Linked DNA regions of Homo sapiens. The protein of the gene in region 4 purifies or fractionates together with the protein of the main gene of each other region. This does not show direct contact. Each region holds a gene or a part of one and is shown on either strand. Other genes may lie near its edges.

The links.
Region 1: the proteins of SIRT1 (region 4) and TULP3 purify together in Homo sapiens (affinity purification with mass spectrometry; 6 studies listed by BioGRID and IntAct, with this or other methods). This does not show direct contact.
Region 2: the proteins of SIRT1 (region 4) and HIC1 purify together in Homo sapiens (affinity purification with western blotting; 4 studies listed by BioGRID and IntAct, with this or other methods). This does not show direct contact.
Region 3: the proteins of SIRT1 (region 4) and ZEB1 purify together in Homo sapiens (affinity purification with western blotting; 4 studies listed by BioGRID, with this or other methods). This does not show direct contact.

Annotation. Positions count from the first base shown.
Region 1 is NC_000012.12:2,893,871-2,900,898, forward strand, and holds part of TULP3 (tubby-related protein 3), read left to right. Parts: intron 1-7,028. UniProt on the Homo sapiens protein: Negative regulator of the Shh signaling transduction pathway: recruited to primary cilia via association with the IFT complex A (IFT-A) and is required for recruitment of G protein-coupled receptor GPR161 to cilia, a promoter of PKA-dependent basal repression machinery in Shh signaling.
Region 2 is NC_000017.11:2,051,181-2,058,111, forward strand, and holds the start of HIC1 (hypermethylated in cancer 1 protein), read left to right. Parts: upstream 1-3,922; 5' UTR 3,923-4,058; intron 4,059-5,129; coding exon of another isoform or gene 5,130-5,166; intron 5,167-5,490; coding exon of another isoform or gene 5,491-5,510; coding exon 5,511-6,931. UniProt on the Homo sapiens protein: Transcriptional repressor. Recognizes and binds to the consensus sequence '5-[CG]NG[CG]GGGCA[CA]CC-3'. May act as a tumor suppressor. Involved in development of head, face, limbs and ventral body wall.
Region 3 is NC_000010.11:31,315,097-31,322,223, forward strand, and holds the start of ZEB1 (zinc finger E-box-binding homeobox 1), read left to right. Parts: upstream 1-4,119; 5' UTR 4,120-4,138; coding exon 4,139-4,196; intron 4,197-4,418; exon of another isoform or gene 4,419-5,111; intron 5,112-5,186; exon of another isoform or gene 5,187-5,351; intron 5,352-5,457; exon of another isoform or gene 5,458-5,602; intron 5,603-6,104; exon of another isoform or gene 6,105-6,429; coding exon of another isoform or gene 6,430-6,436; intron 6,437-6,563; exon of another isoform or gene 6,564-6,739; coding exon of another isoform or gene 6,740-6,755; intron 6,756-7,127. UniProt on the Homo sapiens protein: Acts as a transcriptional repressor. Inhibits interleukin-2 (IL-2) gene expression. Enhances or represses the promoter activity of the ATP1A1 gene depending on the quantity of cDNA and on the cell type.
Region 4 is NC_000010.11:67,879,838-67,887,655, forward strand, and holds the start of SIRT1 (NAD-dependent protein deacetylase sirtuin-1), read left to right. Parts: upstream 1-4,818; 5' UTR 4,819-4,884; coding exon 4,885-5,314; intron 5,315-5,343; exon of another isoform or gene 5,344-5,562; intron 5,563-7,579; coding exon 7,580-7,696; intron 7,697-7,818. UniProt on the Homo sapiens protein: NAD-dependent protein deacetylase that links transcriptional regulation directly to intracellular energetics and participates in the coordination of several separated cellular functions such as cell cycle, response to DNA damage, metabolism, apoptosis and autophagy.

The DNA.
Region 1 (7,028 bases), on a different chromosome or scaffold from region 4:
TGGTCTCAAGTGATCCTCCTGCCTCAGCCTCCCAAAGTGCTGGGATTACAGGTGTGAGCGACCAGGCTTGGCCTATTTTCTTATATCAGAAATGTTTAGTGAAAATTGGAGGTGAAATTTGAAACAACACTCAGGACCTTTGTTGAGGCTAGGCATTTTATAATATAGATTCCCTGGAGATGACGGGGGTTGGCTGGTGCTGGAACTTGAGCCCTATCTGGCCTTTTGTAAGTGATAGAGAATTGAGAATTGAAGGCGTGCTTCCCACTGTGGTGTGACCTTGTGAGCTGGAGTCATCTAAGAAATCCCAGTCGGTGGTTTGTCCATATACCATGATTTCTCTTTAGAAATATAAACAGTAGGCTGGGCATGGTGGCTCACACTTGTAATCCCAGCACCATGGGAGGCCGAGATGGCGGGGGGGCGGGGCGGGGGGGGGGAAATCACCTGAGGTCACGAGTTCAAGACCAGCCTGACCAACATGGAGAAACCCTATCTCTACTAAAAATGCAAAACTTAGCCAGGCATGGTGGCAGGTGCCTATAATCTTAGCTACTCAGGAGCTGAGGCAGGAGAATCGCTTGAACCAGGGAGGTGGAGGTTGCAGTGAGCCAAGACTGTGCCACTGCACTCTAGCCTGGGTGACAGAGCAAGACTCCGTCTCAAAAACACACACACACACACACACACACACACGCACGCACACAAAAAAGAGATCTGTCAAGATAAAAAGCTCAATAATAGGCTAGGTGCAGTGGCTCATGCCTGTAATCCCAGCACTTTGGGAGGCGGAGGTGGGCAGATCACGAGGTCAGGAGTTCAAGACCAGCCCAACCAACATGGCGAAACCCTGTCTCTACTAAAAATACAAAAATTAGCCAGTTATGGTGGTGTGTGCGTATAGTCCCAGCTACTCCGGGAACTGAGGCAGAAGAATTGTTTGAACCTGGGAGGCGGAGGTTGCGGTGAGCCGAGATCACACCACTGCACTCCAGCCTGGGCGACAAGAGCAAAACTCCATTTGAAAAATAAAATAAAATGAAATAAAAATAAGAAATAGTGAAAATAAATAACATTCCCGAAGAGAGAAAATATAACCCCTGAGAAGGGAGAATTGGGCAAAAGTTAAAACGAACTTAAGTTCTGAGTAATGTCTGTTTGAATCTACAAGTAATAAATGCATTCTTTTAACTTCTGGATTAAATCATACATCTTAAATAGCCTTTTTGTTTAGTTCACTCAAAAGAATGCTTTTTGCTTTTGCTGTGTGGTACTTGCAAAATCAGGAGGGGTTTACTCTAAAATAGTTTTCCCTGCAGCATTCTTTGGGGCTATGGGAATGCTCAAATCAGCGGCCAGCCTTTGCTTCTCATTGCCTCCCTCTCCCCAGGCAGTTCTCCCTGCTCTGATTGTGTCTCTACTAAATGGGCCTCCTAGGAAATGGATGTTCATTCCCTGGCTTCAATTAAGTTAGCTCCAGATTGTGGCCGTCTTTCAAGTAGAGGACAGCTGAGCTTAGAATACTAACATTTCTCCCTAGATGAGGAAGGATAGATGTCAAAGGAATTCTTTTCTGACACTTCTCATATGACCTTTATGTGTCTTTTCTCAGAAGCAATATTTTGTTCAAGCCAGATGTGTTCTTGGTGTGTCAGTATGTGTAAAAACATGGCCTTCGAATATTGACATTTAGGATTTGGACAAGGTGAACCTATTTGTCAATTGAGTTAGGAAACATACTTTGTTAATAGCTCTTTCCACAATTATCTGAAATTGTTATCAGTTTGAACATGATGAAATCTGATGCCTCTTTCACTCTATACAGTTATTTGCCACTTAATGATGGGGATGCATTCTGAGAAATGTGTCATTAGTGGATTTTGTTGTGTGAACGTCATAGTGTACACAAACCTTGATGGGATATCCTACTACCTACCTAGGCCCTGTGGTACAGTCTGTTGCTCCTAGGCTACAAAGCTATACAGCCTGTTACTGTACTGAATATTGTAGGCAATTGGAACACACTGGTAAGTATTAGCATATCTAAACATAGCAAAGGTACAGTGAGAATACTTTTTTTTTTTTTTGAGACGGAGTCGCATCTTTGTTACTCAGGCTGGAGTGCAATGGCATGATCTCGGCTCACTGCAATCTCTGCCTCCCAGGTTCAAGTGATTCTCCTGCCTCAGCCTCCCAAGTAGTTGGGATTACAGGCGTGCACCACCATGCCCAGCTAATTTTGTATTTTTAGTAGAAACGGGGTTTTACCATGTTGGTCAAACTGGTCTTGAACTCCTGACCTCAAGTGATCCACCCGCCTCTGCCTCCCAAAGTGCTGGGATTACAGGCGTGAGCCACTGTGCCTGGCTGACAATGTGGTGTTATCATCTTAGGGGACCCCTGTTGTATATGCAGTATGGTTGACCTAAATGTCGTTATTCAGGGCACTCCTCCCCAGGGCTGCTTAAAAATCCATTCACTGGCTTGGAAGTTCTACCTAAAAATAGCAAGTCAGCTGGCATTTTTAATGAACATATTGAAATACCAGAGAATGAAATTCCTGTCTCTGCTGACCATTTTAATACACGTGTTCAGTCGTGTGGTTTAACACATTCAGGTAGATTGGGAGTGAGACTTGTGATTGAATTTGGGCTCTTTCGCTGATCAGCTGTTTGACCTTTAGAATATGAACTATAGTTGTAAGTTTAAAATTGCTTTCCTGTGATGTGTAGAAAATAAGGCTGTAACAAAGCAAGAAATATTTTTCAAATATGCTCCTGGAAAAATAAAATTATTGCTATTTAGCTTTGCAGGAAGAAACTTCAATAAATCTACAAGGTAGGTGCTATAATCTCATTTTACAGAGAGATATGAAACTCATATGAAAGGAGTTCACCTCCTTTCTCCCGAAATTCATTTAGAGCATCTATGAGTTTCATATCTGTCTGTAAAATGAGATTATAGTGCCTACTTTGTCAAGGTTATCGTGAAAATTATCACACATCATATGTGAAAAATAATATATATTTAATATAATTCCTGGCAGGCAGTATTAAATATTCACTAAGTAGAACTGTACTTAAGTGCAACTAGCAGAGTGACAACACATTTTAACAATGTTTCAATAACAATACAATTTTGGACTTTTAAATTTTTTTTTTGGAGTCTCGCTCTGTCGCCTAGGCTGGAGTGCAGTGGCAGGATCTCGGCTCATGGCAACCTCCACCTCCTGGGTTCAAGCAGTTCTCCCTGCCTCAGCCTCCTGAGTAGGTAGGATTACAGGTGCCTGCCACCACCCCTGGCTAATTTTTGTATTTTTAGTAGGGACAGGATTTCACCATGTTGGCCAGGCTGGTCTCGAACCCCTTACCTCAGGTGATGCACCTGCCTCGGCCTCCTAAAGTACTGGGATTACAGGCATGAGCCACTACGCCCAGCCTAAAGATTTTTTTAATACAGGGGAAATTATTAGAAATTTCTGGGTTTCCAACATTCGAAAGCTTTTGAAAGGTGATAAAGTATTATGATGAAATCATTAGTCTTCTCACTGAAGTGAAGATTAAGGTAACACATTCATTTGTAGTATTAAGAAGTATTGTAAAACAAAAATCTTCCCAGGCACAGTGGTTCAGGCCTATAATCCTAGCACTTAGGGAGGCTGAGGCAGGAGGAAGGAGATCACTTGAGGCCAGTAGCTCAAGACCAGCCTGGGCAACATAGTGAGACCCCCTGTCTGTCTGTTGGTCTGTCATGTTCGTTTGTTCTCTCTCTCAAGACATAGGGTCTTGCTGTATTGCCCAGGCTAGTCTTGAACTCGGGCCTCAAGTGATTCTCCCACCTCGGCCTCCCAAAATGCTGGAAAGGCATGAGCCACTCTGCCTGGCCCGAGACCCTGTCTCTTAAAAAAAAAAAAAAAAAAAATTCTAGGCCCAGTGCGGTGGCTCATGCCTGTAATCCCAGCACTTTGGGAGGGCAAGGCAGGCAGATCACCTGAGGTTAGGAGTTAGAGACCAGCCTGGGCAGCATGGTGAAACCCTGTCTCTACTAAAAATACAAAATTAGCCAGGTGTGGTGGCGCATGCCTGTGATCCCAGCTACTTGGGAGGCTGAGGCATGAGAATCACTTGAACATGGGAGGCAGAGGTTATAGTGAGCCAAGATCGCGCCATTGCACTCCAGCCTGGGCAACAAGAGCGGAAACTAGATCTCAAAAAAAAAAAAAAAAAAAGATATAATAGCAGTTGCAGTTTGAGTGCTTACTATGAGCCAAGTTTCATTTAATCTTCACAATAACCTTCTGAGTTAAGTGTCATTGTCCTCACTTTGTAAATTAGGAAACTTGAGGCTTTACTAGGTTAAGTTGTACTGGGAACTGTGCTGTAACCACATAGCACACGTCTCTAAATGGGGACTTACAATTAGTTTGAACTAATATAGGCCAAGCCAGGGGTCAGCAGACCTTTTTAATTATTTTTTTTCAGATGGGGTCTTGCTTTGTTGCCCAAGCTGGTCTTGAACTGCTGGACTTAAGCCATCTTCCCGCCTCAGCCTCCCTAGCAGCGGGGACTATAGGCATGCACCATCACCCCTGGCCAGTAGTCCTTTTCTGCGAAGGTCTTAACCAAACGTTTTTGGTTTTGTGGGCCATACAGTCTCTGTCCCAGTTGCTCATTACTCAGTTTTGCTGTTGTAGCACAAAAGCAGCCATAGATAATAGGTAAGTGAATGAATGTGTCTATTTCAATAAGACTTTATGGACACTGGAATTTGAAGACTTTTTTCTTTTTATTCATTACTTCCTGCACAGTGATAATTTCTTTTGGGCTGGGGGGACAGGTTCTCACTATGTGCCCAGGCTGAGTGCAGTGGTGCAGTCGTAGCCCACAACAGCCTTGAACTCCTGGGTTCAAGCAGTCCTCCTTCCTCTGCCTCCTGAGTAGCTGGGATTACAGGTGTGCACCACCACACCTGGCTAATTTTTAAATTTTTTGTAGAGACGGGTCTCACTATGTTGCCCAGGCTGGTCTCAAACTCCTGGCCTCAAGCAGTCTGCCCACATAGGCATCGCAAAGTGCTGGGATGACAGGCATGAGTCACTGCACCTGGTTGGAATTTGAATTTAATATAATTTTTACATGTCTCAAAATATTATTCTTCAGATATTTTTAACCTTTTAAAAATGTGAAATTCATAGGCTGGGCACAGTGGCTCACGCCTGTAATCCCAGCACTTTGAGAGGCTCATGCGGGTGGGTCACCTGAGGTCAGGAGTTAGAGACCAGCCTGACCAACATGGAGAAACCATGTATCTACTAAAAATACAAAATTAGCCGGGCATGGTGGCCCATGCCTGTAATCCCAGCTACTCGGGAGGCTGAGGCAGGAGAATCGCTTGAACCCAGGAGGCTGAGGTTGTGGTGAGCTGAGATCACGCCATTGCAATCCAGCCTGGGCAACAAGAGCGAAACGACGTCTCAAAAAAAAAAAAAAAAAAACAGCGAAATTCATTCTTAGCTCAAAGGCAGTACAAAAACTGACGGCAGGCCAGATTTGGCCCACACGCTATAGTTTGCAGCCCCTGTGCTAAATCATAAAAGTATTTTTTCCTGGAAGGTCATAGTTATTCATACTGTGAATATTATTTAAGAGAGCATTGAAGATTGTTTTTATATTAAAATGGAACCCGTTACCTTATGGAATAAAACCCAGAATTTAATTTTCAAGATAAAACTTGGAGGCGGGGGCCGGGCGTGGTGGCTCACGCCTGTAATCCCAGCACTTTGGGAGGCCAAGGTGGGCGGATCACGAGGTCAGAAGTTCGAGACCATCCTGGCTAACACAGTGAAACCCTGTCTCTACTAAAAATACAAAAAATTAGCCGGGTGTGGTGGCAGGTGCCTGTAGTCTTAGTTACTCGGGAGGCTGAGGCAGGAGAATGGCATGAACCCAGGAGGCGGAGCTTGCAGTGAGCAGAGCTCATGCCACTGCACTCCAGCCTGGGCGACAGAGCGAGACTCCGTCTCAAAAAAAAAACAAACAAAAAAAAAAACAAAAAAAACTTGGAGACGGCTGTGGTGGCTCACATCTGTAATCCCAGCACTTTGGGAGGTTGAGGCAGGCGCGTCACCTGAGATCACGAGTTCGAGACTAGCCTGGCCAATGTGTTGGAACCCCGTCTCTACTAAAAATACAAAAAAAATAAAAAATTAACCAGGCGTGGTCGCACTCCTGTGTTCCCAGCTACAGGGGAGGCTGAGGCAGGAGAATAGCTTGAACCTGGGAGGAAGAGGTTGTAGTGAGCCGAGATCGCGCCACTGTACTCCAGCCTAGCGACAGAGCAAGACTCTGTCTCAGAAACAAAAACAAAAAAACTTGGATTCTAAAGATACGTTGTTCTGTAGATGGTCTCTGGACCGTACTTTCCTCCTTTCTCCTCAATTTCATTTAGAGCATAAAAGCACTTTCTTAGGCTGTTTGAAGCACTTGGATTGGAAATGTTGCCTGCAGTAACCTGTATAAACATCAATATATCAATAACAGATTATTAGTGCAAAATTTAAATGTCCAAAAACTGAAAGGGAATAATGATCGGTGACTGGGTCTATGAAATTACAAAAGTAAAGCCTAAGGGAGATGGCAAGCTTTCCTATTCTGCTACCCTTGTCAGCTGATGTCTTGGTAGAATTAATAAAGTACTCTTTTTAAACTCAAAAACATCTGTTTTGAATAATACTTTTTTTTTTAACACCCTACCTTTGAGGTAACTATTGTTAATAGTTTGTGTATATCCTTCTGGAATTCTTCTATTCCTGTAGACCTTGCAGATACTTTTTTTTTTTCTACTTGCAGTTATTTTTATTTTTTGTTTTTTGAGAGTGTCTTGCTCTCTCACCCTGGCTGGAGTGTGGCGGTGTGACGATAGCTCAACCTCCTGGGCTCAAGCAATCCTCCCACCTCAGCCTCCCAAGTAGCTGGAACTATAGGCATGCGCAACCAAGCCGAAATACTTTTTTTTTTTTTTTTTTTGTA
Region 2 (6,931 bases), on a different chromosome or scaffold from region 4:
CGGCTTTTATAGGCGCGCGTAGTACTCGTGCGGCGGCTCATTCATGCGGCCGCGGCTCCTACACACTGACGCGCTGCCGACGTCAGCGGGGAATTTAGGAAATGGGAAAAGGGGCTATTTATAGTGGCGAGGCGGGGGGTGGGGACCGAGGCGACCGGGAGGGGAGGAGGGGGCGCGGAAGCGGCGGCGGGGTAGGGGGAGCCGCGCCCCTGCCCAGCCGACAAGGGGTTAACTTTCCGGAACCGCGGGCCTGGGGCCGGGGAGGCGGCGCGGAGGGGCGCGGCGGGCCCTTCGAGCTTATTCACGCTCTCCTTCCGGAGCCCCGCGGCTCCTGGGGGTCTTCACGTGGCAGCCCCTTCCCCCTCCTCAGTTCCTGGACCTGACGTTTCTGCCGTCACACCCCGCAAGGCCACTGCGGTGTCGCCACCCTCTCGTCCTGCAGGGTGGGCAGGAGAGGAAGCTGGACTCCCGTGGGGGCCTGGGGCGCAGCGAGGGCTGTGGCGTCGGGGGCCGGGAGAAGAAGAGTAGGGGAGCCCAAAGTAGCCCAGGAGTCTTTAGCGGAGGAACCTGGGCCTGGGAGGGAAGGCCCAGCGGGGATTCAGGTACCACCCAGGAGCTGGAGACCCGAGGGACGGCAGAGAAGTTGGGGAAGGTGGGCCAACCTCCCCAGAAATGATGAGCAACGGGATCCTCTATGAGGGAGCTGGGGGAACGCGCCAGAGGTAGGGGTGAGAGGAATGGGCAGCCTCAGCAAGGGAGAGAGGAAAGGCTGTCAGTGCCACGCTCCAGAGCCTGGCATCCAGGACCCACCTTCGGACCATTTGTGGCACGATGGACGCTCCCAGAGCTCACGTTAGGGTAATAGAGAGTGAAGGAGACCAGCAGCTTGGCCAAGAGGGGCCCCCAGGGGATGAGGAGGACGGTTTCCTGGAGAAGTTAATGTTCCCGGAGACCAGAATTGGCAGGGAGAGCCCATGACTTGTGGGGCAGTTCCCCTGGTTGGGAGCGGGGAAATGCATGGTCCTGGCCCAGCCTGGCTCCATCGAGATGGAGGAAGGGTCTAAATGAGAGGAGTGTGTTCAGACGAGGAGCTGGACCAGGATGGGGAGGGCTGTGCAAGGCATGGCCGGAAGAGCGGGGCAGGGAGAGAAAGGTCGAAGAGTGAAGTGCACAGGAGGGCAAGGCGGTCCTCACCCTGCCTGGGCTGGGGCAGGGCTGTGAGACCCTCCCTTACAGAAGCAATGAGGGCTTGAGGAGGGGGTTAGGGGCCTGGGCTGGGGCAGGGCTGTGAGACCCTCCCTTACAGAAGCAATGAGGGCTTGAGGAGGGGGTTAGGGGCCTGGGCTGGGGCAGGGCTGTGAGACCCTCCCTTACAGAAGCAATGAGGGCTTGAGGATGGGGTTAGGGGCCTGGGCTGGGGCAGGGCTGTGAGACCCTCCCTTACAGAAGCAATGAGGGCTTGAGGAGGGGGTTAGGGGCCTGGGCTGGGGCAGGGCTGTGAGACCCTCCCTTACAGAAGCAATGAGGGCTTGAGGAGGGGGTTAGGGGCCTGGGCTGGGGCAGGGCTGTGAGACCCTCCCTTACAGAAGCAATGAGGGCTTGAGGAGGGGGTTAGGGGCCTGGGCTGGGGCAGGGCTGTGAGACCCTCCCTTACAGAAGCAATGAGGGCTTGAGGATGGGGTTAGGGGCCTGGGCTGGGGCAGGGCTGTGAGACCCTCCCTTACAGAAGCAATGAGGGCTTGAGGATGGGGTTAGGGGCCTGGGCTGGGGCAGGGCTGTGAGACCCTCCCTTACAGAAGCAATGAGGGCTTGAGGATGGGGTTAGGGGCCTGGGCTGGGGCAGGGCTGTGAGACCCTCCCTTACAGAAGCAATGAGGGCTTGAGGATGGGGTTAGGGGCAGTAAGTTAACTTGGGGAGCGGATGTGGGGGAACGCTGAAGAATAAAGACTGTGGGCACAGCAGACCCCTGGGGCAGGTTAGCAATGCACAGACTCCACTGCACAAGATACATGGGGCGGAGGGGCTCTTTGGAAGTCGGGGGTGGGGGATCTGACTCTATCAAAAAGAGAAAAGATAAAAGAGATGGGGTCAGAGAGGCCCTGCATAGTCTGGATTTGGCCTACTAGAGCTCCAGTTTTCTTGCCGCTAGCCTTTGTTCCAGGGATTCTGTTATTCACAAATGCCTTCCTGCTCGGTAGAAGAACTCCTATTCATCCGTCAAAGCCCAGCTCTAGGAGCACTTATGAGGAGCCTCTCCACCTCCCCTCAACACTCCGTAACTTCCACCTCAGGCCGCAGCACGTCCCTCGGGCGAGATGTCGGGGTCCGCCTTCCCTAGAGACCGGCAGCTCCGGAGGCCTCCGTTTTCCTCTTTGGGACCTCACTGCTTCTAAAGTGAGGATGCTATGGGGAGACATGGGAGAGGGAGTGGGTAAGATGGATCCAGAACATGGGGCGGACTCAGGCAGCGGCGGGAATCAGGCGGACTCGTTTGGACCGAAGCCTCCGCCAGGCACCGAAGCCGTGAAGTCGCCTGCGCAGCAAAGGGAGCCTCCGGGGGGCGCCCGAGACCTTGGTGTCGCTCGGGGGCCGCTGGTAGCCGCGCCCGCTGCCCCTCGCCCGGTGACTCAGCCGGTACCTCTGGCGGGGCCATGGGGGCCAGAGGACAGCGCGGGGGGCGGCGAGCGCGGTTGCTAAGCTCTCCAAGGCCTCGGAGGGACAGGATCTGGGCGCACCTCACCGGTTGCCATGGTAACGCAGCGCCCCAGCCCCTCGCGCTCCGCGGTGGAGGGAGGCGCAGCCAATCGGAAGCGGCGGAGTTCTCGGGGACCCCCCCCCCCCCCGCTCCACGCCGTGTGTGGGCGGGGGTCAGGAGGTGCGGGGCGGAGGCGGAGCGTGGGCCGCGGAGATCCGGCGTTCGCAGGAGGCTTGGTGCGCGGCGGGGCTGCACGGGGCCACTTCCGGAGTAGTACTGCGAGCAGCGGCGCGACAGTGCGGGGTCCCCTTTCTCCCAGAAGAGACGTCACCCACACAAACCTGACCTTCACGTGGGGCGCGGGACCTTGCGGGGTCCCAGCCGCAGGCGCCCCTGTTGTTTCCTTCGGGCGGGTGGGTTGGAGAAGAAGTCCACGCGGGATTCTTCAAAACGGCGTACAGGGGGATTCTAGGGCCCCATGGTTACTTCTTTGGACCCCCCGGAGGCGCTGTCCAGCCACTTCCAGTCGCCCTGATGACTCGTCGTGGGTTCCTTTAGGAGACCCGAAAGTTCAGGGCGGGCTGTGTGGGTAACACCTCTGCCCAGGTTCCCGGAGGGCCCTACGTGGCTGCCCCTGGAGTATCCCAGAGCGCTAGGGCTGCGGGAAGGGGCGGGTGTGCTTCTGGAAACATGAGCGCCTGTTAGTATCAGTGCCTGGATAGGGCTGGGGACAAATCAGTTTATGCCGCGCACACCGAATCCATGCGCCTGAGTGAGGGTGGGTGTGTTGGGGAGTGCGTCCAAGTGGACAGTGCCGTACAGTAATGTCTACGGGGAGTTCCAGGAGAGCTCGGCTACTCCTGCGCAGGATAACCTCTCCCCCACCACCCGAGTCCCGTGCTCGCGGGCAGGACTTTTCCGAACTGGGGCTGTGTGCCTAGAAATACGTACATGGGAGCGCTCAGCTCAAAGCCCCAGGGTTTCTGGGACTCGCGTGTCCGGGGTCGGGGTCCCAGGTGGGTACAGGTGGGAGGGCGAACCTGCGGGTAGGGTGGGCCCCTCCCCGCGGGCTCAGCATCTGTGCGCCTCCAGCTCAGGTGCGCGGGAGGAAGGCAGCGGCCTGCCGCGCAGAGCCCTGCGCGCCCGCGAGGTGGCGCCATAGCCGCAGCAGCGCCCGCCGGCCCGGGCCGCTCCAGATAAGAGTGTGCGGAAAGCGCGGCGGGGCTGAGACGCGACCAGGACGCGGGGAGGACGGACCAGCAGGACAGACCGACCGGGGGCCCGGCGGGCGGAGGGCAGCGCAGCCACGTCCCCCCTGGATCCGCCGTCAGCCGGGCCCGGGGCTTTCGACATGCCCCCCAGGTGGGTCCTCGAGCCGGGGACCGGGAGGGACGGGGGACCCGGGACAGCCCGGTCCTCGTGCGTCGGCCGCCTCGGGTGCATCTTCTGGCGCGGGTGCCCCATCGCGGCTGGCGGCTGGCGTTCAGGGCTCCGGGTGTCGTCCCTTTCGGACTCAGGACCACCGGGCCGCGGCTCCGCGCCGGGTTCACGGCGGGGTCAGCGGCCCGGGGCCGGCTCTGCCCGCACATGGGCTGGAGAGGCGAGGGGAAGGGAAGGGAAGGGGAGCTGGCGGGCGGGGCTGGCAGGGGCGCTGCCCTGGCACAGCTCGGGGCCTGGCAGCGGCGGGTGGGGCATCGGCTAAGAGCTGCCACCGCCGCGGGGAGGGGAGCCCGGCCCGCCGGGACCGCAGGTAACGGGCCGCGGGGCCCCGCGGGCCAGGAGGGGAACGGGGTCGGGCGGGCGAGCAGCGGGCAGGGGAGCTCAGGGCTCGGCTCCGGGCTCTGCCGCCGGATTTGGGGGCCGCGAGGAAGAGCTGCGAGCCGAGGGCCTGGGGCCGGCGCACTCCTCCCGCCCTGTCTGCAGTTGGAAAACTTTTCCCCAAGTTTGGGGCGGCGGAGTTCCGGGGGAGAAGGGGCCGGGGGAGCCGCGGAGGGAGGCGCCGGGCCCGCGCGTGTAGGGCCCAGGCCGAGGCCGGGACGCGGGTGGGGCGCAGGCCCGGGTCAGGGCCGCAGCCGGCTGTGCGCCGTGCCCGCCCGGGGCGCTGCCCCCTCCCTCCCCTGGGAGCTGCGTGGCTCCCCCCTCCCCCCCACCTGCTTCCTGCCTCAGCCTCCTGCCCCGATATAACGCCCTCCCCGCGCCGGGCCCGGCCTTCGCGCTCTGCCCGCCACGGCAGCCGCTGCCTCCGCTCCCCGCGCGGCCGCCGCCCGGGCCCCGACCGAGGGTTGACAGCCCCCGGCCAGGGCGGCGCCAGGGCGGGCACCGCGCTCCCCTCCTCCGTATCACTTCCCCCAACTGGGGCAACTTCTCCCGAGGCGGGAGGCGCTGGTTCCTCGGCTCCCTTTCTCCCTACTTGGGTAAAGTTCTCCGCCCTGAATGACTTTTCCTGAAGCGGACATTTTACTTAAATCGGGTAACTGTCTCCAAAAGGGTCACTGCGCCTGAACAGTTTTCTTCTCGGAAGCCCCAGCACCCAGCCAGGTGCCCTGGGGCGTGCAGGCCGCCCTGGCCTCCCCTCCACCGGCGGCCGCTCACCTCCTGCTCCTTCTCCTGGTCCGGGCGGGCCGGCCTGGGCTCCCACTCCAGAGGGCAGCCGGTCCTTCGCCGGTGCCCAGGCCGCAGGGCTGATGCCCCCGCTCAGCTGAGGGAAGGGGAAGTGGAGGGGAGAAGTGCCGGGCTGGGGCCAGGCGGCCAGGGCGCCGCACGGCTCTCACCCGGCCGGTGTGTGTCCCCGCAGGAGAGTGTGCTGGGCAGACGATGCTGGACACGATGGAGGCGCCCGGCCACTCCAGGCAGCTGCTGCTGCAGCTCAACAACCAGCGCACCAAGGGCTTCTTGTGCGACGTGATCATCGTGGTGCAGAACGCCCTCTTCCGCGCGCACAAGAACGTGCTGGCGGCCAGCAGCGCCTACCTCAAGTCCCTGGTGGTGCATGACAACCTGCTCAACCTGGACCATGACATGGTGAGCCCGGCCGTGTTCCGCCTGGTGCTGGACTTCATCTACACCGGCCGCCTGGCTGACGGCGCAGAGGCGGCTGCGGCCGCGGCCGTGGCCCCGGGGGCTGAGCCGAGCCTGGGCGCCGTGCTGGCCGCCGCCAGCTACCTGCAGATCCCCGACCTCGTGGCGCTGTGCAAGAAACGCCTCAAGCGCCACGGCAAGTACTGCCACCTGCGGGGCGGCGGCGGCGGCGGCGGCGGCTACGCGCCCTATGGTCGGCCGGGCCGGGGCCTGCGGGCCGCCACGCCGGTCATCCAGGCCTGCTACCCGTCCCCAGTCGGGCCTCCGCCGCCGCCTGCCGCGGAGCCGCCCTCGGGCCCAGAGGCCGCGGTCAACACGCACTGCGCCGAGCTGTACGCGTCGGGACCCGGCCCGGCCGCCGCACTCTGTGCCTCGGAGCGCCGCTGCTCCCCTCTTTGTGGCCTGGACCTGTCCAAGAAGAGCCCGCCGGGCTCCGCGGCGCCAGAGCGGCCGCTGGCTGAGCGCGAGCTGCCCCCGCGCCCGGACAGCCCTCCCAGCGCCGGCCCCGCCGCCTACAAGGAGCCGCCTCTCGCCCTGCCGTCGCTGCCGCCGCTGCCCTTCCAGAAGCTGGAGGAGGCCGCACCGCCTTCCGACCCATTTCGCGGCGGCAGCGGCAGCCCGGGACCCGAGCCCCCCGGCCGCCCCGACGGGCCTAGTCTCCTCTATCGCTGGATGAAGCACGAGCCGGGCCTGGGTAGCTATGGCGACGAGCTGGGCCGGGAGCGCGGCTCCCCCAGCGAGCGCTGCGAAGAGCGTGGTGGGGACGCGGCCGTCTCGCCCGGGGGGCCCCCGCTCGGCCTGGCGCCGCCGCCGCGCTACCCTGGCAGCCTGGACGGGCCCGGCGCGGGCGGCGACGGCGACGACTACAAGAGCAGCAGCGAGGAGACCGGTAGCAGCGAGGACCCCAGCCCGCCTGGCGGCCACCTCGAGGGCTACCCATGCCCGCACCTGGCCTATGGCGAGCCCGAGAGCTTCGGTGACAACCTGTACGTGTGCATTCCGTGCGGCAAGGGCTTCCCCAGCTCTGAGCAGCTGAACGCGCACGTGGAGGCTCACGTGGAGGAGGAGGAAGCGCTGTACGGCAGGGCCGAGGCGGCCGAAGTGGCCGCTGGGGCCGCCGGCCTAGGGCCCCCTTTTGGAGGCGGCGGGGACAAGGT
Region 3 (7,127 bases), about 37 Mb from region 4:
AAAAAACAGCAGTAGAAACCAGCTATCAGACCACTGATATCATGGTAAATAATTAAAATTCACTTAAATCAAAAATATGTGTGTTGCTTCCTCTCAAGTTACCTACATATAATTAAGTGTAGAAAAAATTAAATGTTATTCATATTCATAAGTAATATTAGTAATAGAAACTACAATCTAACTTCTATGGAGGCAGCCTTTGAAAGAAATCCTTTTTAATTACTGTGACTTCATGGAAAACACTAGTTTTACTTTTTGGATATTCACCGACATCCTGCAAACATCTTTCTCCATATATTTATATCTATCTCTGTATTACACACGTTCCTGAAAAATCACCTCGTAAATAAGAAACTACACGTGTTAACATTTCATTGACTTACATTAAAAATAGGAGCCTCATTCCCCAGAGGGGTAAGAACCATTCTGTGGTAAACTATGTAACAAAAATCACATGGAAGTATGGAGAAAACATTTGTCCCTGTGATATCTCCTGGGAGGCTGTATTCGAAGGGCTGGCATGGGTCCTGTGGCCAACTGTGGGTTCTGCATCACCCTGTAGTCATGTTTCCTTCCTGACTCAATGACTGCAGAATTTGGTGAGACTGCAACAGTGAAATGACCATTGCCCTCCTTTGTTCCACGGTGAACTGCAAATCCAGAATTACTGTAGGTCAGGAGCCATGGTCAGAGACAAGAATTGAGTAGCGGCTTTATGGGACCTCTACATTCTGTACTTTGAGGGATAACATGTATCACATTCTTTTTCCTTCAAAAACTCTAAGATTAAAATTAGGTATTGAATTCAAGAGTTGCATTTACATGCTATCCTTCCATGAAATTAACGAACTTTAAATTTTGATGAAGACTAGAGAATTATACATTGCACTTCTCAATGTGTTTTGGAAGAGGTATGTGGGAATGATATGCTTCATGTGGAACACCGTGAAATCTCTACATTTTAAACTTAAGATAATTTTATGTCAAATTTTATCCTAATTTATACAGGAATCATATATGAAAAGCAAATAGGTGCAAAGGGTTTATGAAAAATTTATAGAAAAAACTCAGTATTGGAACTATTCTATCCATTTACATTTTTCCCTGTAAATTTGGAATAGTATAGAAATTCATTTTTAGAATATCTTCCCTTCAGCATATATAATCCCAGTGCTCAGTAGAAGCAGTGTGTTAACATTTCATTGACATATTAAAAATAAGCATATATATTGAATGTATGCTGTATGACAGCACTACAATTACTAAAACCAAGAATGCAGGATACATGTTAAAGTCATATATTAGTATCCCCTACCGTTTGATTTGAATAAACCTAAATTTTAATAATCTTCTTTTATAAATTGATTCTAAAGATTTTTCCCCTATTCTTTAGCTGTATTTAAGAGATAAGAAGCAACCGTCACACATGCATCATGTTTAAAGCAGTAATTTATTCTGAGATTTACTTTTGTCTGTTTTCTTTCCAGTCCAGGTATCAATATTTTCAAGAATATTAAAGTATAATAATCAAACATTCAATTCATAACATATATGCTTATCAGAAGCTTTTACAAAATGGAAATTTTATGTTAGAAGATTTGGGCTACCAGTAATATTCACTGTGCATATTTTAAAAAAAAAGGTGAACAGAGTTCATTGTTTAGGGAAAATGATTATGGAGAAACTAAAATCAAGAGCAATTTTAATGTGGATATTAATGACAGTGATCACTTTCATATCCATGACTTTATCTGTTCCTAAGGACTAAAGGGATGAAGGCAGATTATGTACCTTACTGTCAAGAACAGGGTCAGAAAAGGTCAACAATATTAATTTAAGAAATGTTTATTAAGCATCTACTATTGGCTACGTACTCCACTAGGTGTTGAGGACATAGAAATAAGAAAAAAAAGTTACCTGAAAAGGTACTTGTCCACAGTTTGGCCCAAACTAACTAAACCAGAAACCACTAAAGTAAGGAAGAAAATGACTTCTGTTTGTCTCTTCACTTCATCTCTCTATGAGGTGAGGATGAACACTGAAGGAAGCTTAGCAGGGAGGTACAGGCCAGAAAGAGAACATGAGAAAATGCTATTTGTAATACCTCCTAAGTTTAAGAGTAGGTAAAATGTGTGATAGAGCTGGAAAGTTTTTTTTTCCTTTCTGGTCAGAAATCAGGGTAGCTGTAAAAATGTTGGTGGGGTGGGGTCAATTCCATAGTCTATGACCTGATTCGGTAGGCGACTGAAAAACATTGTACAACTCTTAAAAAAAGGGAGGAAGAACTCACACTTAACCAAGCAAAGCAAGGACACCGTGTTGACATACACAAGTTTCGGTTAACATGGTATCAAGGAAAGCGAGGACTGCCTGTACTTAAAATGATCATTAAGACTAATGATTCTAGTTTTGGCATTGAGGATGAATGCAGATATATAGACATAATGTATAGCAAAGAATATTTACAGTCACATTTCATGGACCAATAAATAACGCATTTACTTCTCAAAATGCCCAAGAAAATGTGGGAGAGAAAATGTTCATTTATATTCAAGATTAAACTTTCTAACTTTAAATCATCAGACTTCAGCTGTAAATTTATTTCAGTTGAAAGGTTTGAAGACATTATTAATGAATATTCTAAAATTCCGGAAGGTGTTTAAAAGATAATTTTAACCTAATAAAAAAATCCTGCCATAGAAGTGACAAAAATTATAAGCATAAATTTATTGAGCACCTACTATGTGTCATTGTGCTAGGTGATGTACTACGTTATTTCCAATACTCCGGTCACGTTTCAGTTTTCTCAATTTCTCTATCAATAACTGCTACATTGTTAATTTATAACTATATTACTTGAAATACAGCTCAGCTTATTTATTCCATAAAGTTGGTCCCAAAGACGTTTCCTTATTCGAAGGAGGTGGGAAGCAGGAAGGAAACCTAAATCTAAATTCTACTTAATACTGAAGACGACTTTCTTGATATTTGTGGTTATCTGTATGGTCTTTTCAGAAATCCCAAAACTTGTACCAAGTCAAGGATAAAATAAGATAAAATCAGCAATCTATCAGGTTCAGAGATCACATCTGTCAGCCGATGCTTCTTGCCTTAAGGTCCTGCACGGCGATGACCGCTCATTTAGGAAGGAATTCATGGCCTGTGGATACCTTAGCTCTGAGTCCTGCCACCTAGGATCCCACGGTTCTACGCGAGGAAGAGGGCGGGGAGCGCGGACCGGGTGTGGGAGGCCGAGGTGACAGCAGGTGAGGGCCGGGTGCGGATGGGGAAGTGAGACAAGCACCGTGTGGGTATTACTCATTCCGCTCTACTAAGGAGGCTGCTGGCAAGCGGAACTTCTAGCCTCTCTTTCAATCCAGCTGAAGTTCAATCTCATTGAAGTCACTTCCCATCCCGGTTCGCTTGGGGGGAAACCAGGCGTCCCTGGAAGGGAAGGGAAGGGAGTCCGGGCTGCGCGGGTCAGGTAGCCTCTCTCCGGTCGCCGCGTGTCCTCGCCGTCCCCAAACCTGCCCTTCCCCTCATCAAGGGAACTCCCCGGGGAGTCCAGACCGCGATCCCTTTCCTTGGCCCCGGGGTGCGGGGGGCGGACACGCGAGGCGTGGGACTGATGGTAGCCCTGCCTCCAGGAAGCAGGCAGGCGGGGACCTCTGGGCGCTCGGAGGGGCAGCTCCGAGGGCACAGGGTACAGGGAGAATCAGCCAGATCCCTCCCTGCCCCGGGCAGCCGCGGCGGGTGTGGCCAGCGCGGAGGCAGGACGCCGCCGAGCCTCCAACTTTACCTTTCCAACTCCGACAGCCCGTCGCCTTTCTGACCGCGTCCCTACGGTTTCCCGGCATCCGCCTCCCTCTCCCCACCACACCTGAGGAAAACTTTTCCCTCGCCCCTCAATTCAAATTCAGCAGTGCCCACGGTTGCCGCAAACCGCCCGGTCCCTAGCAACAAGGTTCCGGCCGTAGAGCGAGAGCCTCTAGGTGTAAGGAAGGTGATGTCGTAAAGCCGGGAGTGTCGTAAACCAGGTGCGGTGGGGAGGGGGGAGGGGTGGAGGCGGAGGGGTGGGGGGGAAGGGGGAGGGAGGGGGAGGAGGTGACTCGAGCATTTAGACACAAGCGAGAGGATCATGGCGGATGGCCCCAGGTGTAAGCGCAGAAAGCAGGCGAACCCGCGGCGCAATAACGGTGAGTGGCGGAGGGGACCGGGGAGCGGCGGAGTCAGGGGGAGCTGGGCAGCCGGGGCGCCCCCGGGGGTGAGGGGGGCGAGCCGGGCTGGGGGCAGCCGGGGCAGGGACGGCAAAGTGGAGTGGGAAAGTAGAAAGTAGTGCTCTCTGCCCCCCTCCGCTGCCGCCGCTGCCGGAGCCGCGCCGCGGCCGCTCGCTCTCCCTGAACCGTTATGTCTCTTACCTGGTCTCTCTCCGCCTAGCGGCTCCCGCCGCCCCTGCCGCCTCCCTGGACCGTTAGCCGGCGCCGACGCCGCCGCATCCCCGGCGCAGGGCGGGCGGCCGGGACGCACTGGCCACTTTTCTGGTCCCGGGTGGAGCGGCTGTTGCTTCTTTCCGCACTTTTCCCCACTCTTGTGCCCTTCGGCGCCTCCCTCTCCCCCTCCTCCTGGCCCCCTCAGCGCGATTCTCCCTCAGCGCCCAGGCCCCCGGGAGCCGCGGAACAAACTTGTGCCCGGCGCTGACCGTGCAAAGTGGCTTCCGCGCGCCGCGGCCCCGGCCGGCGCCGTCGCTGTCGCTCGGGCCCCGCGACTCGGGCCGGGCTGTGGGCGCGCGGCAGGCGGGCTGCGGCGGCGGCGGGACGGGGCGGCCGCGGGTTGCGTGGGGTTTGTGCGCGCGTGTGCGCGGGCGCCGGCTGTGCGCGCCGCGGGCGGACAGGGTTCGGCCGGCGGCGGTAAAGTTGGGACCCGCGGGCCGGGCGCGCTCGCGTAACGGGGATTAGAGGCGCGGGGGCGCGGGTCCCTAAGCGCCCCTCCTCCCTGGCGCCTCCCGCTGCCCGGCCCAGAGCCCCGGCCTGGGGACTCCGCGGCGAGCCCCGCGAGTGGGGTCCACGTTTGGCGGGGCGCGGCGGGGCGGCGCGGGGAACAAGGCAGGAAAGGTACCCACTTAACGCCGCCGGGAGCCGCGCGGATGGGGGCGAGCTGGGCGGCGGGTGTGTTTGCGGAGTTGTTACCTGGGCTTAGAGACCGGGAAGCACCACAGACAGATCCCCCTCCCGGGGCAGACGAGGTCTCTGCGCCGGGATGGGCCGGTGTGCGTGCGCCTCGCGCTTTTCTCTTTCGGTTTTTGGGGAAGTTGTTACCTGGGCCGGACGCACGGAGCGCTGAAGCCGGATAATGGGGCTTGGATGGCGCTCTGGGTCTCGGGTGGAAGGAGGGTGGGGGAGGGGGCGGACGGACCGACGGACGCGCGGGGCTGCTACTTGCACCGCAGCTGCAGTGTTTATTGATTTGTGCTGCTGTGCCAAGGGAAACACACACCCCTCTGCCTGGCGTGAGAGTTAAAAAAAAAGAGAGACAGCCCGAGGGATCGAGACCTGAACATGTGGTGGTGGTTGCACAGTCGCCTTTTCCAGTTTGGAGAGACGTTGTAAGTTGATTGTATTTCTGGTTATCTCGGGGCGATGCTATGCTTTCTCTCCCTCTCGTGCAGCAGCGAAATGTCTGCTGATTGTTATTGTCTGGACAGTTCCTGTGGCGAGAGGGGCGAGACTTGTCCGCCCGGGGGCGGCGGGAGCGCAGGGAGAGCAGCCCCCGCCTGCGCCGCCCCGGTACCTGTTTGTATAATAATGGGCGGCAACGGCCCTGCCGCCGGCCGCAGCCCAGGCTATATAAGGAATTACACGTACATTTCGGACCGAGGGGCTCGCTTTGGTTCCTGCGTTATTTTTAAAACGACTTTTAAGAGAGGGGCAATAAATGCGTCTATAATGGGACCGCTGCAGCGTCGAGAAAACGAGGAAATACGTGTTTAGGAGAAAACTCTCTCGTGCTCCCCCAGCCCCACCCCCCGCGCCTGGGCTCCCTTTCTCCCTCCCCTCTGGGATGCGAAACGCGAGGTTTTGTAACCTTTCCTGGCAATTTTAGATTTTGTGTGGGATTTCCTGTCTAGAAGCAGATACGAAGATTTTTAAGCTGTTTCAAGATGTTTCCTTCCAATCCATAATTATATTTTTAATATATTCGAGCCATCATTAAAATCACTGCTTTCGTGATTTTAATTATTCAAATAAACACTTGCATTTTAAAGACGTCTGTTGATTATAAACGAAAGGTATTTTGGTATTCTCATTGTGGAGAGATGACTTGTTATAGCAAGGAGTGGAGCATAGGCTATTGCAATTTTAATTTCCTGTTTTAGCGTCAAATAGTGTGTGTTCCATATTGAGCTGTTGCCGCTGTTGCTGATGTGGCTTTATGAAAGGTAAGTTGGTTCGGAAAGAGCTGTTCGCTTTTTACCTTATTTAAAATGTTGATCGCCAGAGAAAGGGGCTTTTCTTGTTGCTGACGACATGTGTGTGACATGTGAGTCTGAACCACCCAGCGTCTGTGCAGCTGCTGTAAACATGTTTACCTGAACAGGAAAGAATGGATTTTTCTCCTTGAGATCCTGTGATATGAATATTACACTCGTAAGGCATATCAACAGATGACTTAAGGGGGGAAAAGCGATCCTGAAAGATACTTGAAATCAACAGGAAAGAGAGGTTCTTGATCGCTGCAGCAAATGGCAACTTGTGCAGGTAGAAAAAAAGATGGTGTTTAGTTTTCTCCTGCATGTATGTCAGCCCCCTCCTGTCTGCTGCTTTCATTCTCAAGGGAGGGATTTATTTACCACGCTTGCTGTCAGTGTTTTTCCTTTGTGTTTAATATTAGAAAAACAGATTTGCGTCTGTTTAGCACAAAACGTCTTGTCTGCAGTATGCATTACTCTCAGAAAACAAAAGGTGTTTAAGATAGCACTGTACTACTACAGGTATCTTCCATTTTCATCACTTTTGGCTCTGTCCTTGTATTTCTTTTTGTTCTCAAATGCATTTCATCCATTGCTGGTGATTATAGCCATGCTATTTGATTTAGCCTTATATTTTGCAAATTAAAAATGAAGTTATATT
Region 4 (7,818 bases):
TAGCTGGGATCACAGACCTGTGCCACCACACCTGGCTAATTTTTAGTAGAGACAGGGTTTCACAATATTGGCCAGGCTGGTCTCAAACTGTTGACCTCCTGCCTCAGCCTCCCAAAGTGCTGGGATTACAGGTGTGAGCCACCACTCCCGGTCATGTTTTAATGTTATTTTATTTTATTTTTGAGACGGAGTCTCACTCTGTCACCTAGGCTGGAGTGCAGTGGCGCAATCTCGGCTCACTGCAACCTCCACCTCCCAGGTCCAAGTGATTCTCGTTCCTCAGCCTCCCGAGTAGCTGAGATTACAGACGTGCACCACCATGCCTGGCTAATTATCGTATATTTTTAGTAGAGATGGGGTTTCACCATTTTGGCCAGGCTGGTTTCGAACTCCTGACGTCAAGTGATCTGCCCACATTGGCCTCCCAAAGTACTAGCATTACAGGCATGACTGACCGCACCCGGATGTTACTTTATTTATTTTTTTTGAGATGGAGTCTCACTCTGTCGCCCAGGCTGGAGTGCAGTGCGTGATCTTGGCTCACTGCAAGCTCTGCCTCCTGGGTTTCCGCCATTCTTCTGCCTCAGCCTCCCGAGTAACTGGGACTACAGGCGCCCACCACCACGCCTGGCTAATTTTTTTGTATTTTTAGTGGAGACGGGGTTTCACCATGTTAGCCAGGATGGTCTCAATCTCCTGACCTCATGATCTGCCCGCCTCAGCCTCCCAAAGTGCTGGGATTACAGGCGTGAGCCACTGCGCCCAGCCGTATTTTATTTTTTTGAGTTAGGGTCTTGCTGTGTTGCCCAGGTTGGAGTGCAGTGGCTAGACCGTGGCTCACTGCAGCCTCGACCTTCAGGCTCAAACAGTCCTCCTGCCTCAGCCTCCCAAGTAGCTCGGACTACAGGCGCAAAGCAGGATGCTGGACTAATTTTTAAAGGTTTTGGAGAGATGAGGTCTCACTGTGTGGCCCAGGCTGATCTCAAATTCTTGGTCTCAAGCCATCCTTCCACCTCAGCTTCCTAAAGTGCTGGGATTATAGGTATGAGCCATTGTACTTGGCTAGGACATTTTTTCACTACGTATCCCTGACTACTAATAGGTTTGAGCATATTTTAAATTTTTATATTGTCAAATATTTTTATCATTTAAAAAATGGCTCCTGCCTTGCTAAAAAGTTCTTTCTTGATCCAAAGTTATAAATATTCTAAAATGTCATATTTTTATTTTTGTATTTTTTCATTTAGATCTTCAATCCATCTGGAATTTTTAATTTTTTATATTTTTGAGATGAAGTTTTGCTCTTGTTGCCCTGGCTGGAGTGCAATGGTGCAATCTCGGCTCACTGCAATCTCCGCCTCCCAGGTTCAAGCAATTCTCCTCCCTCAGCCTCCCAAGTAGTTGGGATTACAGGAATGTGCCACCACACCTGGCTAATTTATTTTTTAGTAGAGTCAGTAGTAGTTTGTCCATGTTGGCCAGGCTGGTCTTGAACTCCCGACTTCAGGTGATCTGCCCCCCCTCAGCCTCCCAAAGTGCTGGGATTACAGGAGTGAGCCACCGCGCCTGGCTGGAATTTATTTTCGTATATTGTGTGAAGTAGGGATTTCCATTTGTGTTTTTCAGTTTTGACAATAACATTTTATTAGTACAAAAGAGTTGATACTAACTCCCTTACTAATTGTAGTCACATGAGACTGATATCAGAGCTATTAGGCCAATTTATTTTTTTATTTATTCATTTTTTATTTATTCTTATTTTTATTTTTTTTGCGATGGAGTCTCACTCTGTCGCCCAGGCCAGAGTGCAGTGGCGCGATCCCGGCTCACTGCAAGCTCCGCCTCCTGGGTTCACGCCATTCTCCTGCCTCAACCTCCCGAGTAGCTGGGACTACAGGCGCCCGCCACCACACCCGGCTAATTTTTTGTATTTTTAGTAGACACGGGGTTTCACCGTGTTAGCCAGGATGGTCTTGATCTCCTGACCTCGTGATCCACCCGCCTCGACCTCCCAAAGTGCTGGGATTACAGGCGTCAGCCACCGTGCTTGGCAGGCCAATTTATTAACTTAGGAGAATAGAACTACTAAGTCAGCCAGAATATTAATGTTCTTTTTTTTTTTTTTTTTTTTTTGAGACAGAGTTTCACTCTTGTTGCCCAGGCTGGAGTGCAATGGCACTGTCTCAGGTCACTGCAACCTCCACCTCCTGAGTTCAAGCGATTCTCCCGTCTCAGCCTCCCGAGTAGCTGGGATTACAGGCGCATGCCACCACTCTGGGCTAATTTTTGTATTTTTAGTGGAGACGGGGTTACATCATACTGGTCAGGCTGGTCTCGAACTCCTGACATCAGGTGATCCGCCCGCCTTGGCCTCCCAAAGTGCTGGGATTTATAGGCGTGAGCCACAGCGCCTAGCCTTAATGTTAGTTCTTAACCAGTGGTAGACCAGAAGTCTAATTGGGATTTTTTGTTTTTGTGTTTGTTGTAATACAATTTCTGTTTCTCATTTATCCTACCTGAAAAGCATACTGCATCTCTGACCTCTCAGCATACTAACAATAATATTGATCACATAGCATTTCTTGTAGTTCATAAACTTCACGTGTCAATAATATACTATAAATATAAATGAATTAATGAACAACAGGATGCTCATAAGCTTACAGACATCTTTTTCTCAAAAAAGCTGGGAATTTTGTTTCTGTTTTATTGGGATACTGACTCTCAACATTTCATATATTGCATTCCACCAACGTAGCTGAGAGTCAATTTATGAAATATTTTGTAGTGTAAGACAGAAAGTGGGGAGGACCAAGTATGTCAACCACTAGGAGTGTGGTGCCTAGTCAGGAATTGGGAGGAGTGTAGCAAGAAAGGAAGGACAACAGGATTTGGTCATTGATTGGTCAGATGGATTTCAGAGGGATTGGTATGAAGGAACGCTTCAAAGATTTTTTTTTTAATTTAAGTTCCAGGATACAGGTGCAGAATGTGTAGGTTTGTTACATACTTATAGGTGAGCCATGGTGGTTTGCTGCACCAATCAACCCCTCATCTAGGTTTTATTTATATTTTTTTTTGAGACGGAGTTTCGCTCTTGCTGCCCAGGCTGGTGTGCAATGGTGCGATCTCGGCTCACCGCAACCTCTGCCTGCTGGGTTCAAGCGATTCTCCTGCCTCAGCCTTCTGAGTAGCTGGGATTACAGGCATGTGCCACCACGCCCGGCTAATTTTGTATTTTTAGTAGAGACGGGGTTTCTCCATGTTGGTCAGGCTGGTCTCGAACTTCCGACTTCAGGTGATCTGTCCGCCTCGGCCTCCCAAAGTGCTGGGATTACAGGCAGCAGCCACCGCGCCCAGCCAGGTTTTAAGTCCCGCATGCATTAGCTATTTGTCCTAATGCTCTCCCTCCCCTTGACCCCCACGCAACCAAAGATGGTTTTAAGGCTTCTAGGACTGGAGATGATTACTTTCAGAAATGAATAGTGGTGACCAGATGAAATAAGACTTTTGGATGTAGATAGGACCTTAGCGATATATTTCCAGCTTTTTATTTTTTATTTTAAGGATGAAGAAACAGCTTTAAGTTGGTTGCCTAAAGTCACGCAGGTAATTGATGCAGTATGGCCAGAACCCATACTAGGCTTAAGGGACAGTGTACCATAAACTCGTAGAGGTCCTTTAAACAGATAGAAACGCTGTGCTCCAGGCAGATGCCATAACAAACACTGGCTCTAGATCTACCATGGGTTATATGGGTCCTTAGTTAAGATTAGATATGGAGTCACAGTGTGCCAGAATTTCAGGGAGAGAGGAAAGTGGAAGGGCTTTCCACTAAGCCTTTTGAACTACTAGGTACCCCTCGTTTTACATCTGGTTATCTCATTTAAATCTATGACGTTTTAAAATACTTATTACCATTTAAGACATGAGAAAAATTAAGTTTAGAAACGGCTAGATAGCTCACGCTAGAAAGGAAGGACTCCAAATTTTAACCAAGGGCAGATGTGCATGGAGGCCAAGTCATTTCCTTCCCATGCTCTCATACTGACCCAACAAACCCATTCTGCACGTGAGAAAACTGAGGCCCGGAGGAGGGAATTCACACACGTTTGAAGCCAAGCTGGGGCCAGAAAGTAGATCGGCTGATCTCCAAACCTCCACGTCAAAGGTCTTCCCAGGAGGACATATGCCTTCAAGGATTTTACAATGTATACCACCCTACAAGTGATGGGAGAGAGGGGAAAAAAGCAACCGACTAAGGAGAAAAGCAAGGAGCAGAAAAAGGAGCAAAAGAGGAGCTGTCAGAACGGTGTGAGGAGAGTGGGAAAGGAGCCGCCTCCTTTTGCCTCTCTTCCTACTTATTAACAAAACAGAACGACTATCCAACGTATTTCAGGGAGCTAAGTCTTAGCCAGCTTCAGCTGTGTTTTAACCCTTAGCTAAATATAGACAAGGCTAAGGCAGGCCAGGTGTACACTTCAGGAAGACGTGGAAATTCCCAGGGCGGACCAAAACTTGAGCTGTTCCGGCGGTAGTGATTTGAGGTCAGTTTGAAAGAGAAGTTGAGAAAGCGGCCGAGGGGCGAATTTGGCTGCACTACACGCTCGCCACAAAGAGGAAGGGCCGCCGGCCGCCGGGGCCGAGTGCGCTTCCAGCCCAGGCGGAGCGGTAGACGCAACAGCCTCCGCCCGCCACGTGACCCGTAGTGTTGTGGTCTGGCCCGCGTGGGTGGCGGGAGCGCCGAGAGGGCGGGGGCGGCGATGGGGCGGGTCACGTGATGGGGTTTAAATCTCCCGCAGCCGGAGCCGCGGGGGCGCCAGTGCCGCGCGTCGAGCGGGAGCAGAGGAGGCGAGGGAGGAGGGCCAGAGAGGCAGTTGGAAGATGGCGGACGAGGCGGCCCTCGCCCTTCAGCCCGGCGGCTCCCCCTCGGCGGCGGGGGCCGACAGGGAGGCCGCGTCGTCCCCCGCCGGGGAGCCGCTCCGCAAGAGGCCGCGGAGAGATGGTCCCGGCCTCGAGCGGAGCCCGGGCGAGCCCGGTGGGGCGGCCCCAGAGCGTGAGGTGCCGGCGGCGGCCAGGGGCTGCCCGGGTGCGGCGGCGGCGGCGCTGTGGCGGGAGGCGGAGGCAGAGGCGGCGGCGGCAGGCGGGGAGCAAGAGGCCCAGGCGACTGCGGCGGCTGGGGAAGGAGACAATGGGCCGGGCCTGCAGGGCCCATCTCGGGAGCCACCGCTGGCCGACAACTTGTACGACGAAGACGACGACGACGAGGGCGAGGAGGAGGAAGAGGCGGCGGCGGCGGCGATTGGGTACCGAGGTGCGCAGGGTGCGGGCGGCCGGAACTGCGCATCTCCTCCTCCCTCTCCCCGGGCTCCTACTGGCCTGAGGTTGAGGGCGGCTGGGGGCTCGGGGCAGGCTCCGCGGCGTTCCCCTCCCCACCCCGGCCCTCCGTTCAGCCGCGCTCCTCCGGGGCTGCGGTTCCTACTGCGCGAGCTGCCAGTGGATTCGCTCTTTTCCTCCGTCCGTGGCCCGCCTGGGCGGCCTTGTTCTTTCCGCAGCAGCCAGGTCGGGAGACTCTCGCAGTCGCTTTAAAATAAGTTTCTCTCCCCCTCTTACTCTTTTAGCATATTGCTTTTGTTAGAGCTTTTTTTTTCTTTTTCTTTATTTTTTATTTTCATTGCTTTTCTCCTCTACCCCCCAGCACACTTAAGTCTGCAACTTTTTGGCTGTCCCGTTGGTCTGCGTTTTCAATTGCTTTTTGCAAACTTGACACCTGTGCAGTTTGCTTTTTTTGGTCTATATTTTTATGACTGAAATTACAATTTTTGAAAGAGGAAAGCTGTTTCTATAGTCACAGCTTGCAAAATTTAAAGAACGTGGCTGTTCCTGAAGACATTACCATTCTGTAATGCAGTTAGGAGTGGGTATGGGAGAGAGAGTACTTTTAGAGCTGTTCATATTACTTTTATTCTAATCTTGCTCTTGTGCGGTAATGGTGTTTGGGCTAAACATGCTTTTTTTGTATGTATGTAGTATTGAGACACAAACTTAACACTTCTAGCATAATGAAGCAGATATGTTGCAGTTGTCATGTTCTTGAAGGTTTCTTTTTTTTTTTTTTTTTTTTTTTGAGACGGAGTCTCGCTCTGTCGCTAGGCTGGAGTGCAGTGGCGCGATCTCGGCTCAGTGCAACCTCCGCCTCCCGCGTTCAACCGATTCTCCTTCAGCCTGCCGAGTAGCTGGGACTACAGACACCCGCCACCACGCCCAGCTAATTTTTGTGTTTTTAGCAGAGACGGGGTTTCACCATGTTGGCCAGGATGGTCTTGATTTCTTGACTTCGTGATCCGTCCGCCTCGGCCGCCCAAAGTGCTGGGATTACAGGCGTGAGCCACCGCGCCCGGTCAGGTTTCTTATTTTTGATCTGAGGAGTTTCTATCCTTGATAGGTGTTCATCTTTATCAATATTTGGGTCAGGCCGGGCGCGGTGGCTCTTTCGTGTAATCCTAGCACTTTGGGAGGCCAAAGCGGGAGGATCTCTTGAGCCTAGGAGTTTCAGGCCAGCCTGGGCAACATAGCGAGACCTCCTCTCTACTAAAAGTAAAAAAAGCGGGACGTGGTGTCGCACACCTTTAGTCCCAGGTACTAGAGTTCGAGGTTGCAGTGAGCTGTGATCCTGCCACTGCACTCCAGGGTGGGCAACAGAGTGAGACCCCGTCTCAAAAAAAAAAAAAAAAAAAAGTAATATGTGTTTTTAGGGACTGATTTAGTAAAGAGACCCTGATTTCAAGCAACACAGTTGAGTACTAATTTATTATTTACCTAATAATAATTGTGTTATTAATACTGTTTATTTAATAGAGGAAACAATGCAGAGGTACTTGTAGTATTGTGTAAGTTTAACGTGCGCATTGCCAAGGTTATATTTGAATGACGTTTTTATGTAAATGTCCATTTATTACACGTTTCACGAACGCTATTGTTTGTGATTGTATGATACATTCTAGCTAGATTATTATCTTTTCTTTTTTTTTTTCCTTTTCTTTTTTTTTAAAAGGTGGAGTTTCGCTCTTGTTACCCAAGCTGGAGTGCAATGGCGTGATCTCGGCTCACCGCAACCTCCGCTTCCCGGGTTCAAGCCATTCTCGTGCCTCAGCCTCCTGAGTAGTTGGGATTACAGGCATGCGCCACCATGCCCGGCTAATTTTTGTATTATTAGTAGAGACGAGATTTCTCCATGTTGGTCAGGCTGGTCTCGAATTCTCAACCTCAGGTGATCCGCCTGCCTCGGCCTCCCAAAGCTCTGGAATTAGAGGCGTGAGCCACCGCTCCCGGCTATCTTTTCTGTTTTTTAAGTAGACTTAATTTATTTTTAGATTTTGGCTGAAACTGAGTGAGCAGAATTCCTAAAGATGAAGAAACTGTTCCAATGAACAGTGCAAGCTGACCCCATAGGCATGCTTTACACACGCCGTGTAAATGTTAAATGCTGTACTCGATGAAAATGATTGCTCTATAACCGTTCATACATTTTAGGTGCATGTTGTTTTGATAGCCTTGACTGACTTGGTTTCTTTTGCAGATAACCTTCTGTTCGGTGATGAAATTATCACTAATGGTTTTCATTCCTGTGAAAGTGATGAGGAGGATAGAGCCTCACATGCAAGCTCTAGTGACTGGACTCCAAGGCCACGGATAGGTATGGCTCAGAGCTGTTAATTTTAGAGAGTAAATGTACGGTTTTTGGTTTGTTTGTTTTGAGACAGAGTTTCGCTCTTGTTGCGGAGGCTGGAGTGCAATGGCGCGATCTCGGCTCACCGT